2 separate regions of the Homo sapiens genome follow, and region 2 is linked to region 1. Evidence: fine-mapped expression QTL. Tissue or cell type: cerebellum. Region 1 holds a variant in brackets; the other region holds the start of a gene. All regions are shown on one strand. Distances are from middle to middle.

Region 1 (8,070 bases):
GGGGACCCATCTTCCCGATGTCGTCCTTCCCACACAGCCGTGTCTTCGGTGACCATATGTAGTCTGTCTGCTGGAAAATTGTCTAGATGTCCAGGGCTTCTGGGGACATTGACCTAGTCCTCAGATGGAGAATATGTGGTGCTCAGGCCACACCTTCCATTCTCACACCTGGGGTAGACATCACTAATCCATGCAGCAGTCTTCCCCAGCCCTGAAATCTCGGAATTTTGCTCAGCCCAACCCTAACCCTAACTCCTACCAGCCAATTCAAGGTGATGATTAGATGGAATATTGTTGCCACCTGTAATCTGGTCCAATCCCCTAGTTGTGTAGACAGGGAAACTGAGGTTTTGAGAGGTGACATGGCTTTCCTGAAGTCACTGACAGGCAAGGTTTTGAGGAGATGCTGTAAGGGTCCCCTGGCTTGCTTCACTGTTTTGGTCACATGCTCATATTTAGGGACATATCAGGGAAAGTAAGCGGCCCCTTGCTAAGGGGAAAGAGCCCTTAGGCTGGGCTTGAACATGACCTGGCTTTTGCCCCATGCCACATGGTCAGAGCAGGTCACAGAGGCCACATTGCAGGCCCATTGGAGCTCTTTCCCTTCCCTTTGCCTCCTTTGCAGATGGGTCCTGTGTCCCTGTTCCACCCTCTGAAGGCCACCCTGGAGCAGACACAGCCGGCTGTGCTCCGAGGAGCCCGGGTTTTCCTTCGACAGAAGAGTTCCACCTCCCTCAGCAATGGCGGGGCCATGTGAGTATCCAGATGCAGGACATAGCTGGACAGGAGGAGGTCCAAAGACAGTAAAGGGGGAAGCAGACATCCCATTTCCTCAACCTCCCTGGCCCTCACTTCCACTGGCCTCTGGGTTCACCAGCTTGGAGGCACCTGAGGGGCGTGTCTGCCATCCGACCCTGCACTTGGGCCCTTAGCAACCCTCCAAGGACAGAGAGCCCCTAGGCCACATCTCAGTTCTCAGGGGCTGGCTTTGCTACAGATGCTTGTTGTACTTGCTGCCTGAGAGCAGTCAAGGGCTCTTCCTTTGCTGGGTTTCTGTGGCAGACTTTAAAATCGTTTCCTGTGACATTAGACAGGTGCTTCATCGAACCCGCCTTCCTAACAGCACTTAGACCACCACGTCCCATTCCCAACACACGCACCTGCTTCCCTTTCAGACAAGAGGCCCCTGCCCCTGCTCCTCATCGGCCCTCCGTGCCAGCAGACGCTGAGATTCCACCTCCATCTCCCACCCCTTTCTGTCAATGGCCTTCTACTGCTCTGATCTTTCTAACCCCGTAAGGCACTTTTCCTCTCAGATCTCCACTTTGGTACTGATTTCTGAAGCTGTTATATTTTGTAAAGAAATTGGTAAGGTTCTTTTGTATCACTTAACTCTTGCCACAATATTTCCGGGTAACAAATCACCCAGAAGCAGGTGACTTACAAGAACCATCACTTTTTCCCACTGTGGCCCAGAAAAGTGTGCTCCCAAATCTCAGGACCCAGATCCTGGGGGCTGACTCCCGAGCCGCTGGCAGCCCCCCATTCCCACACTGCTTTCAGCATGCTGTTGAAAACCTTCCTTGCATTTAAAGTCCTGATTCTGACTGTATGTGCAGGTGGGAGGAGATAGTGAGGTGTCTGGGGTTTATCTAAGCCAGGCTTTCAGCAGGAAATTGAGCTTCTGTTATTTCTGTGATGGTAGTTTCTACCTAAATCAATTACAACTCCAAGTCAGAGAGCACCCACTCAGACTGGGTCTGGTGAGGGTATTTATTGAGCCATTTAGTGAGCGGGTTGAGCACACCTCTGGCCTTGGACGTGGTGTTATTTCAGGGTTAGCGGTGCATTAGGAGCCAGCTCCGGTTCTCCTAACCACCCCTCCTCTCAGCACCAGCCTGCCACTGCGGCCGCTCTGTGCCTGGTGCCAGCAGGGGCTGCAGTGCCCCAGACAGCATGGAAGGAGAGCTGCTTGCAACTCTCAGAAGACAAAGGATGGGGCTTCTCAGAAGCCCCAGCAACCACCAGTGTGTCCTTCTGCCATCTCTGCGTCCACTGCTGTGGTCAGGGTGTGGTCCATTTAGACTATCAGGCTCCAGTCTGAGCTCAGAGTGATCAGTGCCACTCAACCTGCATGACTAAGAACGTAGTCTTCAGTGTTTCACTGAATGTGAGAATGAGCACTCACCCGAACACATTCCACGCCAGTTGGGAGATAAGTGATGAGAAATACCAGTGCGGAAGTATCTCCGGGTGGGGCTGTTGGGGCAGGCGTATGGGGAGCATGTGTGGGGTGGCCTCCGCCAGAAGGCTGCACCCCAGCAGAGAGCCGAGGGATGGAAGGGCTCATTGTGGCTTGGGGGGGGGGTCAGAGAAGTAAGGAGGAGCCACCAGCAAGGGACCCCTGAGGGAGGAAGCCCCTAGAGGAGGAAGCCCAAAGAGTCCCGGGCGAGGCCCCCTACCCCCCGTCCCAGCCCGTCCCCTCCATGACAGCTTTGCCCTCATCTGTCCCAGCCTGTCCTCTCCATGACAGCTTCTCTTGCTGTCTGCTGGCATAGGCAGGACTTCTTCAGCTACTGTCCTAATGCAGGCTGTACACATGCGGCCCCACTCCTTCCCAGGATAGTCCTGTGTGGCAAGGACAACCCCTGCTCCCACTTCACAGATCAGCCTCTTGTCCAGAGGAGCGGGTGACGGACCCAGGCCCCCCTCAGACTTGAGCACTGTGGGCTGTAAGCTGGTGCTCTGCATCCTCTCTGCCACTCTGAATCCCTTCTTGCTCTGACCCTGTTTTGGATCCATGTCCTTTGATGAGGCTTTGCCTGGGTCCAGCGTGCACAGGCCACGTTGGGGCTCTTGTGCCCAAAGGAGGGCTCAATTCAGTCCAGAACAGGGTGGCCAAACCCCCTGACCTCTGCTGCATGTGTTGGAGACGCCTGGCAGGTTGAAGCACCAGGCTATTGGTAAGGCACCTGCAGTCTCTGACCCTACAGGAATCTGTTTGTCTTCTCTGCCACAGACAAAACCAAGAGAGTGGCATCAAAGAGTCTGTCTCCTGGGGCACTCAAAGGACCCAGGATGCACCCCATGAGGCCAGGCCACCCCTGGAGCGTGGCCACTCCACAGAGATCCCTGTGGGGCGGTCAGGAGCACTGGTGAGCACTCCCGGGGGCTAGTGAGACTGGGTTGGGGGATGTGTGAACAGGGATGGGGGATGTTTGAGACTGGGGTGGGGGACGTGTGAACAGGGATGGGGGATTTTGAGACTGGGGTGGGGAACATGTGAGACTTGGGTGGGGGACGTGTGAGACTGGGGTGGGGGATGTGTGAGACCAGGGTGGGGGACGTGTGAGACTGGGGTGGGGGATGTGTGAACAGGGATGGGGGGTGTGTGAGACTGGGATGGGGGATTTTGAGACTGGGGTGGGGGACGTGTGAGACTGGGGTGGGGAACATGTGAGACTAGGGTGGGGGACATGTGAGACTTGGGTGGGGGATGTGTGAGACCAGGGTGGGGGACGTGTGAGACTGGGGTGGGGGATATGTGAACAGGGATGGGGGGTGTGTGAGACTGGGGTGGGGGACGTGTGAACAGCAGTGGGAGTTAGGTGAGACTGAGATGGATTTGGGTGAGACCCCAGTGCCTCATGGAGTGAGTCCGGGGTGGGATCAGATGAGTCCGCGGTGCCTTGTGTGGTGGGACTAGGTGAGTGCTGTATCCACAGGCTGTGGACGTTCAGATGCAGAGCATAACCCGGAGGGGCCCTGATGGGGAGCCCCAGCCTGGGCTGGAGAGCCAGGGTCGAGCGGCCTCCATGCCCCGCCTTGCGGCCGAGACTCAGGTAGGTGGTCTGGGAGGGTCCAGGCCCTGGGCTGGGCAAGTGGGGGGTGGGGAAGTGGGGCTGTGGCTCTGGGCCTCCTGCAGGTGAGGAGAGCTGGGGTAGAGAGGCTGGGGTCCATGTGTGGAGCTCTTTGCTGAGGCAGGAGCAGGCACCCCGGGCAGTCCTGTCTGGGCGCCGACAGAGGTGCAGCCTGGACGCCTTCAGCCCCTGAGGCTTCTCCAGAGGGTGGGTCAGGTCCGGTAGAGGACAGCTGTGCCTGTTCTCAGCCTCCTATTAGGGGCCATGGGGCATAGGGGCCCCCACTCTGGCTCAGCCACGTTCTGTTCCTCCTTTCCGGGGCTCTACTCCCTGAGACAACCCCCACTCTCATCCAGAAAATTTCACCGACACCTCAGTCCCCTCTCCCGCCCGTGGTTCTGCGGAGGACCCTCCCTGCTCATGGGCAGTCCCTGGACTACTTTTCTACCCAGCTCCTTGCTGGGCTCGCCTCTTTCTGGGACATGCACACTGGATTCAGGAAGAGGAAGCTCTGGCCCCATGTGTTTCCCGGGGGAGGCTCCTTCCACAAGGACACTGGGAGGATCGCCCCTCCGAGGCCAATCTGGGAACACTGTGCCCCGGCCTCCGAGGCCTCGGAGGAGCTGCAGGGCCTCACCTGCAACATGAGCCTGCTTCAGTTGGCCAAAAGTGACCGGAGCCCCCGTGCCAGCCCTGTCCCTCGGCCGACCTGGGCTGTGGAGCTGTGGATCTGAACCTCGTCCGTGGCTCGTCTCCCATCCCACTGCTGTGGCCAGCAAACCCTTTTCCTCTCCTCACTGCCTCTCCTCCCTCTTAGGGTTTTCTCCTCTTCCCACCTGTCCTTCCTCTCTTGTCTCTTTCCCCGCCCAGTGGTACCCTCCTGGGTGCTGCCTGGTGGGTG[G/C]GTGCAGGCTGAGCCTCCCTGCAGCCTGTGCTGGGGCCTCCTCCTTCACACACGTGATGCATTGGCGGCTGTGGGTGAGTTTACCTGGGAGGGCCTACCCGTCCCAGGTGTCTTCACGGGTCCTGATTCTGGCCGTGGAAGCAGCTCGGGAGCCAGTCCACCCCAGACGCACCAGGCAGAGTGATCCCATTGCAGCCAGCAGAGGCGTCTCTGGTTTCCACTCAGGGTTCTTCCAACCAAGCCAGCCACCTCTCTCTTCCTGGCACGACACATGGGATGGGGCGGGGACTCAGGCACTGTCTGCCCCCAGCCTGCCCTCCTGGGCTACCATTTCAGGCCTGGGTCCTTCTGACTGTGAGACCAGGATGGGGGGCGTGTGGGCCTGCTGTCTGGCCTGCTCCACCACCCACTTCCATGCCTGCATTCCCGCTGACCCTGGTGCCTCCCCTAGGCCCACTCTCAGTCCTTTGCCCACAGCCCGTCACAGATGCCAGCCCCATGAAGCGCTCCATCTCCACGCTGGCCCAGCGGCCCCGTGGGACTCATCTTTGCAGCACCACCCCGGACCGCCCACCCCCTAGCCAGGCGTCGTCGCACCACCACCACCACCGCTGCCACCGCCGCAGGGACAGGAAGCAGAGGTCCCTGGAGAAGGGGCCCAGCCTGTCTGCCGATATGGATGGCGGTGCGTGCGGAGGGGCCCGGGGAGTCCTTCGGGGAGCTATGGCCCGAGTCAGGGGGTCCAAGCGGCCCATGGGGGACCCTCTTCCTTTGTGGGCCTCGTGACCCCATAACCAGCCAGAGCAGGGTGGGACTGAGGCCCAGGCCCTAACCCTCACCCTAGCCTCCCCTGGCACCACCTGAATTCTGTCCTGCTGGGCCCGGGGGTCAGGGGTCCCTGCCTTGGGCCTGGCCGTGCTAACTTCTTCTCTTCCCTGGCCAGCACCAAGCAGTGCTGTGGGGCCGGGGCTGCCCCCGGGAGAGGGGCCTACAGGCTGCCGGCGGGAACGAGAGCGCCGGCAGGAGCGGGGCCGGTCCCAGGAGCGGAGGCAGCCCTCATCCTCCTCCTCGGAGAAGCAGCGCTTCTACTCCTGCGACCGCTTTGGGGGCCGTGAGCCCCCGAAGCCCAAGCCCTCCCTCAGCAGCCACCCAACGTCGCCAACAGCTGGCCAGGAGCCGGGACCCCACCCACAGGTAAGAGGAATAGGTGGAGAGGTCAGGGCCCAGCTGCCTCTCCTCGGCCCAGCACCCCTGTCCCACAGGCTCCTGCCTCTCCCCAGGGCCTCGCTGCTGCCCTTTGTCATTCCCAGCAACCCAAGGGCCGGGCGCTCCCCTCTGTGCCCTGTCCCGGAGCCCACGTCTGCAGCCTACCCCAGCTGTGTTCTCATCAAGCTCCTGCCTGGGTCACCCTGGGACAGTGGTTCTGCGTCCTATCCACTTTCGGACCTGGGCCCCCAAATACTTACCTCTCTCTCGGTCACTTAACTCTCCTTCCCTGACTGTGGTCGTTGGGCTTTTGTTCTGTCCTTTTCCCTGGCCCCAGCCTGTCCCTTCCCATCACCTGCTCTCCCCAACCCCATTCCTGGGCCTGACCCTGACCATCGCCCTCCCCCGCACACAGGTGCCTGTTGCCTCCCTGGTCACCGCAGCCCGTTGTCCCCCATTGCCTCCCTCTCTCCTCCCATCCCCCCAGGCACCTGTGTGTGATGTGCTCTGTCTGTTGGTTCGGCTTTTTTTTTTTTTTTTTTACCTCTGATTTGTTCTGGTCCATTTTCATGTAGGGCAGTGGTTCCGTGAATGGGAGCCCCTTGCTGTCAACATCTGGTGCTAGCACCCCCGGCCGCGGTGGGCGGAGGCAGCTCCCCCAGACGCCCCTGACTCCCCGCCCCAGCATCACCTACAAGACGGCCAACTCCTCACCCATCCACTTCGCCGGGGCTCAGACCAGCCTCCCTGCCTTCTCCCCAGGCCGGCTCAGCCGTGGGCTTTCCGAACACAACGCCCTGCTGCAGAGAGACCCCCTCAGCCAGCCCCTGGCCCCTGGCTCTCGAATTGGCTCTGACCCTTACCTGGGGCAGCGTCTGGACAGTGAGGCCTCTGTCCACGCCCTGCCTGAGGACACTCTCACTTTCGAGGAGGCTGTGGCCACCAACTCGGGCCGCTCCTCCAGGACTTCCTACGTGTCCTCCCTGACCTCCCAGTCTCACCCTCTCCGCCGCGTGCCCAACGGTTACCACTGCACCCTGGGACTCAGCTCGGGTGGCCGAGCACGGCACAGCTACCACCACCCTGACCAAGACCACTGGTGCTAGCTGCACCGTGACCGCTCAGACGCCTGCATGCAGCAGGCGTGTGTTCCAGTGGATGAGTTTTATCATCCACACGGGGCAGCCGGCCCTCGGGGGAGGCCTTGCCCACCTTGGTGAGGCTCCTGTGGCCCCTCCCTCCCCCTCCTCCCCTCTTTTACTCTAGACGACGAATAAAGCCCTGTTAGAGGATGCGGCTCTCTCTGTCCCCTTCCTGTCCTGCCTTCCTGGGTCTCGTACCACACACCAGACCCTAAACCGCAGGCTGCTGTGTGTGGCTGAGAAGGACCCAGGAGTCCAAATCCCGTGTCCTGGGACTCAGCATCCAGCATGGGTGCTTGGAGCCGTTGTGAGGAGCTCTGCGTCCTGTGGGGAGCACCCTTCACGTGGCCGTGCGGCACAGAGAAGCAGGGCCCACCTGAAAGTGCGCCGAGACCTCGGGACGGAGGGGATGGGGAGGGGGACACAGTCGTGGCTTGTGCAGCCCGCCAGTGTCAGCGAATGCTCACTCAGGCAAGCTCTGTCCTCCCTGGACACCGTCAGCCCCACAGGAACCGAGCTGGGAAGTGTTCTTGCTGTGGTTGTGATTTTTAATTGCAACACCTCTCATTCTTGTCACTTCTATATACGTGATGTAGAAAAAATGGAAAACCAGAAAAATGGGGAAGGAAATGTTCACATAACTTTAAAAAATCAAACCTGTGAAAGAAAGATGTCAGCTTTTTGCCACGTGTCTTTGTGGCTTATGCGAGGAGACTCCCTGTGCAGCCCTGTCCGGTCCAGGTGGACGTAGACGGCCCCTGGCTCTGCTGCTCTTGACCAAGTGCCTGACCGCCAGGCCCTCACACCCAGGCTCCTGGGCACTGTGGTGTGAGGCGAGGCCTCGGGATCCATCACCGCAGGATGCTGTGAAAAGTACTCGCGATGGCAGCCAGGTAGCAAGCCCTTGCCAGTGGAGAGCACTGGATGTCATGGTGGCAAACAAGGCAGCCATTTGCTGTCC
Region 2 (8,070 bases), 240 kb before region 1:
GAGTGAGGGATGGGGGTGGGGGACAGGGGGCAGCAGAAGGACTCTGAGGTTGGAGAGGGATGGGGGAGGGGCTGTGAGCAAGTGTGCTGGAGGGTCCGGAGGAAGATGGGACCCTCGAGGGGTGACAAGCTCGCTGGTCGTTGGCTTAGACACTGCAGCAGTGCCCACCACGCAGCCTGTCCTGGACTTAGTCACCCCCAGCTCCAGACTTGTCAACTCTACACATTTCTCTTGTGGATTCTCTTCCCTATAGCCCTGGATGAGCATTTCAAACCCTCTCCTCCCTCGCCAACCTGCAAATGCCCCCTTCTCACTCTCAGTTGCTTGTTTTGTTTCTTGTTTCACTGAGAAAGTAGAATAATCACAATAAAACCCTCATCCTCCCCCAAATGAATCCTCCAGCCCACCTGTGCCTGCAATCGTGCGACCCGCTTTTCTTTCCCTGCCTCGAGTGAGCTGTCCCAAGTCTGATGCCCTCTTGCCTGGACGAGGCAAGACACTCTTTTTCTTGCATCAGCAATTTTTCTTTCTGTTGAGTCATTGCCATCACATACGAAGTCCAATAATATCCCCTACCTTAAAAAACAAACAAACAAAAAACTCCTTAATGCTGCATCTGTGTTGTTCCCTGTCTCACTGGACAAGCTGTCTACACCTGCTGTAGGGACTTCCTCACCGAACGAGCTGTCTACACCTGCTGTAGGGATTTCCTCACCAACCGAGCTGTCTACACCTCCTGTAGGGACTTCCTCACCGACCGAGCTGTCTACACCTGCTGTAGGGACTTCCTCACCGACCGAGCTGTCTACACCTGCTGTAGGGACTTCCTCACCGACCGAGCTGTCTACACCTGCTGTAGGGACTTCCTCACCGACCGAGCTGTCTACACCTGCTGTAGGGACTTCCTCACCGACCGAGCTGTCTACACCTGCTGTAGGGACTTCCTCACCGACCGAGCTGTCTACACCTGCTGTAGGGACTTCCTCACCGACCGAGCTGTCTACACCTGCTGTAGGGACTTCCTCACCGACCGAGCTGTCTACACCTGCTGTAGGCACTTCCTCACCGACCGAGCTGTCTACACCTGCTGTAGGCACTTCCTCACTGGACGAGCTGTCTACACCTGCTGTAGGCACTTCCTCACTGGACGAGCTGTCTACACCTGCTGTAGGCACTTCCTCACTGAACGAGCTGTCTACACCTGCTGTAGGGACTTCCTCACCGACCGAGCTGTCTACACCTGCTGTAGGGACTTCCTCACCGACCAAGCTGTCTACACCTGCTGTAGGGACTTCCTAACTGAACAAGCTGTCTACACCCGCAGTAGGCACTGCCTCACTGACCGAGCTGTCTACACCCGCTATAGGGACTTCCTAACTGAACAAGCTGTCTACACCCACAGTAGGCACTGCCTCACTGACCGAGCTGTCTACACCCGCTATAGACACTTCCTCACTGACCGAGCTGTCTATACCTGCTGTAGGGACTTCCTCACTGAACGAGCTGTCTACACCTGCTGTAGGCACTTCCTCACTGAATGAGCTGTCTATACCTGCTGTAGGGACTTCCTCACTGAACGAGCTGTCTACACCCGCTGTAGGGACTTCCTCACAACTCATTCTCTTCAATCCGCCCCACTCGGGCTGCTCCTCTGTGGAAACTGCTGTCCGGGTGATGGGCACCTCTGTCTTTCCACTCTGATGGCTGAATGTCGGTCCTCATCTCTATGGACTACACGCACTCCTCCCTCAGCTCCGGGACAGGGCACTCCCCCGACCCCCCACAGCCCTGGCTGCTCCTCCTCACCGGCTTCATTCTTGGGGAGTGGCAGCATCCTCTGTCTCTGACTTCGGTCGCTTCCTCGGTGGTGATGCATCAGGCAGGATGACACTTGCAAGGGACCATCTACCACAATCTGTGCGATCTGTGCAAGGCGCAGGGAAGTCCCAAGGGCCAGGATTCACCATGCCTGCGTGATGCCATCCCCCGCTGGCAGGAACAAGGGGAGGACGCAGGAACTGGAACTGGAGAGAGAGAAAGGAGAGTGGTGGGTGCCTGACAGGGCCGGAGCTTCAATTGAGGTGCACAGCCAACCCTCGGTGACCTGGCAGGAGGAAGTCAGGGGAATAGTAGACACCTTGGCCTTGCTCTTTCCTTCCCTCAAGGGCCTTTGGTGCTCCTGTTGGGCTAGCATAACCAGAAACCACAGGTCAAGGAACAGGCTGATGTGGCTTTCAAAGGCCAGCTCCAGCGTCACGCAGCACGGAGGGAAGGGCAGAGCAGATGTGGCGAGCCCAGCCTCCAGGCGCAGGGCTGCAGCAGTGGCCTCTCGTCTTGGCATCCCTCGAGAAACTCCACCCCTGCATAGCATCTCCACTTCTGTCCCCAGTAGGCAATTCTTAATTTCCACCCTGTGACTAACAAGCTCTTCCCTCTGTCTTCCCCATCTCGGCAAAGGGCATCCCCCTCGACTCAGTCACTCAGACCAAAAATGAAGAGCCTGTGTTTCTATCTCTCCTTCACATTTACACTGGACGCACTCTCTCTAAGAGAAAGAGGCACTGCTCATGGCCCCCATGTTCAAACCACATCATCTCTCTCTGTGCTGCTGTCAAAACCCCTCCCTGGGCTCTGATTTTTCTCTGTGACAGGCCAGTTGGCAGCCTCCCCGACAGCCTTAGCACCTGCTTCCCAGCTAAGCGAACCCTGATTTTGTTTGGGGCAACTATGTGCTCGCCTAGTGGGGGCTGGCCATCCTGGTCCACTTTGACACATGTTCACTTTCCCACCCTGTTAAAGTCAGGGCCGGCCACATGGCCCATGGCCTAACGGGGTTAAAGAGACACTTGCAGGGGGAGCCTCTGAGAAGCTTTTCCTTTGTTAGAAAAGAAAATCGTAACCTGATTCACAAAGTGGTCATCCTTTGTACACCTGCCACTTCCTTCCCGTTTGAGATGCTGGTGTAGCGGTGTGATGCCCTGTGCTATGACAGCCACCCTGGGGCATGAGGCAACAGGCAGGAAGGCAGAAAGTGTATGTGGGGATTTTGGAGGGAGGAGAGATGGTGGCTTCGTATTCAGTGAGATCACAATGGCATCGTGCAAGCTGCTGCTAGCTGGGAAGCGGGTTGTTCGCCTCTGAATGCATCCTAAGTGATTCAGCACCCCAGCCTCCTGCAGTCCACACTCCACACGGCAGCCCGAGGGACCCTTCAGAGGCCTACGCGCCTCTGCTCGGAACTGTGCGGACTGCCTCCCTCTCAGAAGGCGCAGCCCGCACCCGGCCTCACTCTGCACTCAGCGCCTTGCGAGCGAGCTTCAGGTCCGAGAGGGTCCCTTGTTCCCGAAGGTCTCCCCGACCCCGGGGCCGCCTTTTTGGAGGTTGTGAGGACCCACGGGCCTGCACGAAGTGAGCGCTGTGTAAATGGTTGCTGTGCTTTGTACAAAACGGTCAGCTCCGTGAGGGCAGAGCTGGGAGCCCAGGACAGGCCCGGCCCGCGGTGGGCGCTCAAGGAGGCCTGGGGAATGGCAGTGACCGTGACAGGTTCCCTAACGGGGCGTGGCCTGCAAGGCGGTCAGAGGCTTCTCTGAGCTGAGATCCCGGAGCCAGCCCCGTGCGTGGAAACAGCAGGTCCCGCACCCGGGCTGGGGGCCCCCGACAGAAGCGTCCGCGTGGCACCAAGGCCGCGAGCCGAGCGCACCCGGAGGGTTGGGAAGGCCGGGGACCCGGCGGGGACGGGGCGGGCCGGCCCAGGCCTGGCGCCCAGCTCTGGGCTGCAGCCCCAGGGCTGGTGGCGCCTCCGGGCGGAGCGAGGGGTCCGTCTGGGCCGAGTTTGAGGAGCCGAGGGCACCCAGGGGCGGTGCGGCCGGCAGAGTGGGCTCCGGGGACGGCCCGGGCTGGCGCTGAGCGGCCGTCGAGGACCCACAGGCTCGTCCGCTCCTGGGCCCGGCCCAGCCCCGGGGTGGGAGGCGCGGGGCGAGGGAGGCGCAGCCGGAGGGGCCGGGGCGGGGCGGGGGCGGCCGCGGGGCGGGGCCGGCGCGGCAGGGTGGGCGGGGCCGGCGCGGATTGGCCGGGCCCCGCCACGTGACCGGCCCCTTATAGGGCGTGGCGCGGGGCCGCGGAGTCGGGTGAGGCGGCGGCGGCTGCGGCGGTGGGGCCGGGCGAGGTCCGCTGCGGTCCCGGCGGCTCCGTGGCTGCTCCGCTCTGAGCGCCTGGCGCGCCCCGCGCCCTCCCTGCCGGGGCCGCTGGGCCGGGGATGCACGCGGGGCCCGGGAGCCATGGTCCGCTTCGGGGACGAGCTGGGCGGCCGCTATGGGGGCCCCGGCGGCGGAGAGCGGGCCCGGGGCGGCGGGGCCGGCGGGGCGGGGGGCCCGGGTCCCGGGGGGCTGCAGCCCGGCCAGCGGGTCCTCTACAAGCAATCGATCGCGCAGCGCGCGCGGACCATGGCGCTGTACAACCCCATCCCGGTCAAGCAGAACTGCTTCACCGTCAACCGCTCGCTCTTCGTCTTCAGCGAGGACAACGTCGTCCGCAAATACGCGAAGCGCATCACCGAGTGGCCATATCCTGCCGGGCGGGGCCGGGCGGGGCCGGGCGGGGACCGGGGTGGGGGCCGGGGCCGGGGCCATCTTCCCGGTGGCCGGGAGGGCGCGACCTGGGGAGGCGTCGGGAGACGGGCGAGGGGGGTACGGAGCGCCCCAGGGCCCCTCGGAGCGGCGGGTGCGGGAGCATTTCCGTGAGTGCGGCGGGCGCGGGGCGGAGCCCCTCTGCTCCGGACTCGTCCCTCCGCACGCCGGGTCCTGGGGATCCTGGTCGGTGCACAGTGCGCGGCTAGCCTGGAGGGCACCGAGGGCGAAGCCGCGTCCGTGCAGGTGCGAGCGCTGTGGGGACGCGGCCGTGCGCGCGCCTGGCTGCAGGTGCCTGCGTGTGCGGGCTGAGCTGGAGCCTGGCGCTGCGCGTGCGTGCGCTCGCGATGCGGGCTACATGCATGTTCACGTGCCTGTGTAGGTACATGTGGCTGCGTGTCTGGAGGGAGCAGCGTGCGCCTGCGCGGGGTCTCCCTCCAGCCTCGCCTGGGGGCGCTCGGCCCCCTCCCCTCGGGGCCCTGGAGTCGGGCGGAGCCGGGCCGGAGGCGCTGTCCGCGGTGCTGACGGCCGCCCGGGTGTGCCGAGGGGCTGGCGGCCCAGACTGCGGAGGCCCCGCCTCGCGGCCGCCCCTAGGGATGGGGGCAGGGAGTGAGGGAGACCAGGCCGCTTCCGCCAGGAGAGGGGCTCCGGACCCAGTTGTCTCAGCCCCTCCGGAGACGGCCTAGCGGTGGCTGCTGCACTGGGCTCTGCTGGCGTCGGCCTCGTGTTTCCCTCCGTGCGGCGTCTGCCGGCCAGTCCTTAACTCACGCACTCCATTCGAGTATATGATCCTGGCCACCATCATCGCCAACTGCATCGTGCTGGCCCTGGAGCAGCACCTCCCTGATGGGGACAAAACGCCCATGTCCGAGCGGCTGGTGAGTGCCCGGCTGGGCCTGAGGGCAGGGTGGTGGGGAGGCCGCGACTCCACTTTCCTTTATGGTCTGTGCCTGAGAACAGCTTCCTCGGGCAGGGTCGTCTGGGCAGTGCCCCTCGCGTCTGAAGGAAAAGGTAGGCCTGGCAGATAACACCTTCCTCGAGGGCCAGGGCAGCTGGGGTCACCGGCTTAGCCCTGGGCGTGGCCACGTTAGCCCTGGGCCAGTCTGCCCTGTGCCACGAGCTACTCCTGCACCTCAATGGCTGTCCTGGCTTTCGGCGCTAGACTTTGATCCAGAAAACCATGTTCTAAACTTGGGGTGGGGAAGGGGCATTCATGTCTTCGGGAAGGTCAGCTCTGAATGCCATGTGTGCCCTGCTGGGCTGAGATGGGCTTTGGCCTGGATGTGGGAACCCTGAGCCTCATCCTCCAAGTTGTCTTGTGCGGGCCTGCTTGGAACCTCTTCTCCAGTGGGCCTCACCATCCTGTGGGAAGCATTCCTTCTCAAACATTCTGAATCATTTTTACCTGTCCCCAGATTCCAGCCAAGAGGCCCCCGTGGTAGCCCCCATTGGAGCATAGAGTCTGTGTGAGTCAGGGTGCCAGGGCAAGGTCTCCGTGGCTCAACAGGAGGCAAGGTGGAAGGCCAGCCCTGTGGGGTCTCTGGAGGGGCTGGGTCAGAGGAAGGGCAGCATTTTGGAGGTGAGCAGTTTCTGAGGTCAGAGCATGTCCCCCAGCCCCCACTCTTCCCTGATGCCTGGCCCCATGTCTGGGTTCCGAGTGTGCCTAAAGACTGGAGCCTCCAGGTGAGCAGAAGGCAGAGCAAGTGGGGGCCCAGGGGGTGCGGGGCCAGAGGCGTCCAGGAGACGGCCTCTCTGGGGTGTCAGGAGCTGCTCCCTCTTCCCTTAAGCCTGGCTTCCGCCCCCACTAGCATCCTGAGACAAGAGCTATTCAGACTTTAGCCCTGAAACTGAACTCCCTTTGAACCTGGGCCACCGCAGGCCCAGGAGTGCAGAAGGGGAGACAGGGAGCCTGTCCTGGAGGTGAGGCACCAGGAGGTGAGTTATGGGTGGCCGAGGTGAGGAGGTCTTAATGGAGCACAGTCTGGAATGCCCAGTGGTCTGGGTTACGGCCGGGTGAGGAGGAGGAGCATGGACAGCCCAGCCACACCATGAGGCAGGCGTGAGTCATGGTCCCTGTGGGGGACTTGGGCAGGACCCTGGTGGGGCCCATTGCTTTCTGGAGGCTGGAGAAGAGGGTGAGCTTGAGAGGAAACAGGCAGAGAGCCTTGAATGCCAAGTCACAGGAAGGAGGGCAGGGCCAGGGTCAGAGGGACGCAGGCCCAGGAGCCAGGCCGGGGCGGGGGCAGGGAGGATCAAGCTGTCTTGCCCTGCCAGGCAGTGGGTGTCCAGCCTTGCAAGTTCCTGCCTCGCAGGTGTGGGAGGGTTTACTTTGTGGTCATAGGTTGGGGAGGACACTTCTAGGAGTGGCGAGCTAACCTGTTGGGAAAACTGCAGAACATGCCCGCCCTGAGCCAGCCTAGAGGTCTGGGGAGCTCTTGACCAGTCCCAGTCCCATGTGCAGGCCCAGCCATTGATGTCCCCTGGGATGGAGGGGAGGCTGTGCTGCTGCCCACAGAGCAGGCCGAGGCTGGGTGGTGCAGGGGCAGCCCCTCAGTTGTCTCCCAGCCTGGCCCTGGGCGAGGCCTCCCTGGTTCCCTGCCTCTCGGGGCTGTTTCCCACCTCCCCGTCGACTCTGGAGCTACCTCGAGCCAGGCCCCAGCTTGCAGTGCAACACCAAGCTGCCTGCACACCCATCCCTCCCACCTAAGCCAGCCTTCAGCCATGGGCTGGGCAGGGCAGAGCTGTGAGGAGAGGGCTCGGGCTGGGGGCTCCTTCCCAGCTGAGGGTGCTGGCTGGTCCTTCCTAGGCGTCGGGCCTGTTCTCTTTTTCACCAGGAAGTTTCCTGTGAAGATCTCTGTCTGCTGCGGCCCCACTGTTCCCCTGGGGCAGATGGTCAGCAACCCCACCCCTTGGGAAAAGGGGTCCCTCCTAAACAAATCAGACCAGAAGGCTCGAGGCCAGGAAGAGCATGGGCGAGTCAGCACGGGTCATGATGGACCCTTGGGTGCTGGTAGCTTCTACCAGGTACTGCCAGCCAAGCCTTGGGCCAGCTCCACCACAGGACAGGAGGAGCCCAGGCTGAGTAAGGTGGGAGTCAGATGCGGAGAGCCCTCGAGAGCCTGGCTTCCTGGGGAGGAAGGCACAGGCTGTGGAACTGGTGGCACTCACCTCACCTGGCAGCTCTGTGGCAGCCCAGCAGCTGCTTCTTCCTGTGACTTCCACAGTCCTGAAGACGAACCCTCAGGGGAGGCCCTTGAAGCTGGTCTCCTCTCCCCACCCCTTCACCTGCTTCCTAAGGCAGCAGCCCTGGAGTGCAGGTGTCCGACACCCCCATGCCAACCCTGCACATGCAGCTCCCTCAGCCCAGCTTCCCGGGCTTGCCTTGCACAGGGCCTTTCCCTGCCAGCCCCACGCGTGTGCTCACGAGGAGTCTTTGGGGTCTCCC

Evidence for each region. PIP is the estimated chance that this variant, and not a neighbour inherited with it, causes the effect.
Region 2: CACNA1B starts here. The variant in region 1 is fine-mapped to the expression of CACNA1B in cerebellum (GTEx, PIP above 0.99). The same link has a PIP of 0.9 or more in anterior cingulate cortex and cerebral cortex.

What each region holds. Positions count from the first base shown.
Region 1 is chr9:138,114,927-138,122,996 of GRCh38, forward strand. CACNA1B (calcium voltage-gated channel subunit alpha1 B) reads left to right here. Exons shown (of 47, transcript NM_000718.4): 42 at 626-753; 43 at 3,020-3,155; 44 at 3,726-3,842; 45 at 5,239-5,446; 46 at 5,705-5,955; 47 at 6,543-8,070. The coding sequence ends at 7,073. Among named protein-coding and RNA genes, the nearest start is that of FAM157B, 98 kb to the right of the region's middle. The variant G/C (reference allele first, on the strand shown) is at 4,762.
Region 2 is chr9:137,873,657-137,881,726 of GRCh38, forward strand. CACNA1B (calcium voltage-gated channel subunit alpha1 B) reads left to right here and starts at 4,126. Exons shown (of 47, transcript NM_000718.4): 1 at 4,126-4,561; 2 at 5,398-5,503. The coding sequence starts at 4,278. It overlaps CACNA1B-AS2 (CACNA1B antisense RNA 2), which reads right to left. Exons shown (of 4, transcript NR_121583.1): 3 at 1,807-2,024. RefSeq lists enhancers at 1-1,084, 4,319-5,234, 7,503-8,004.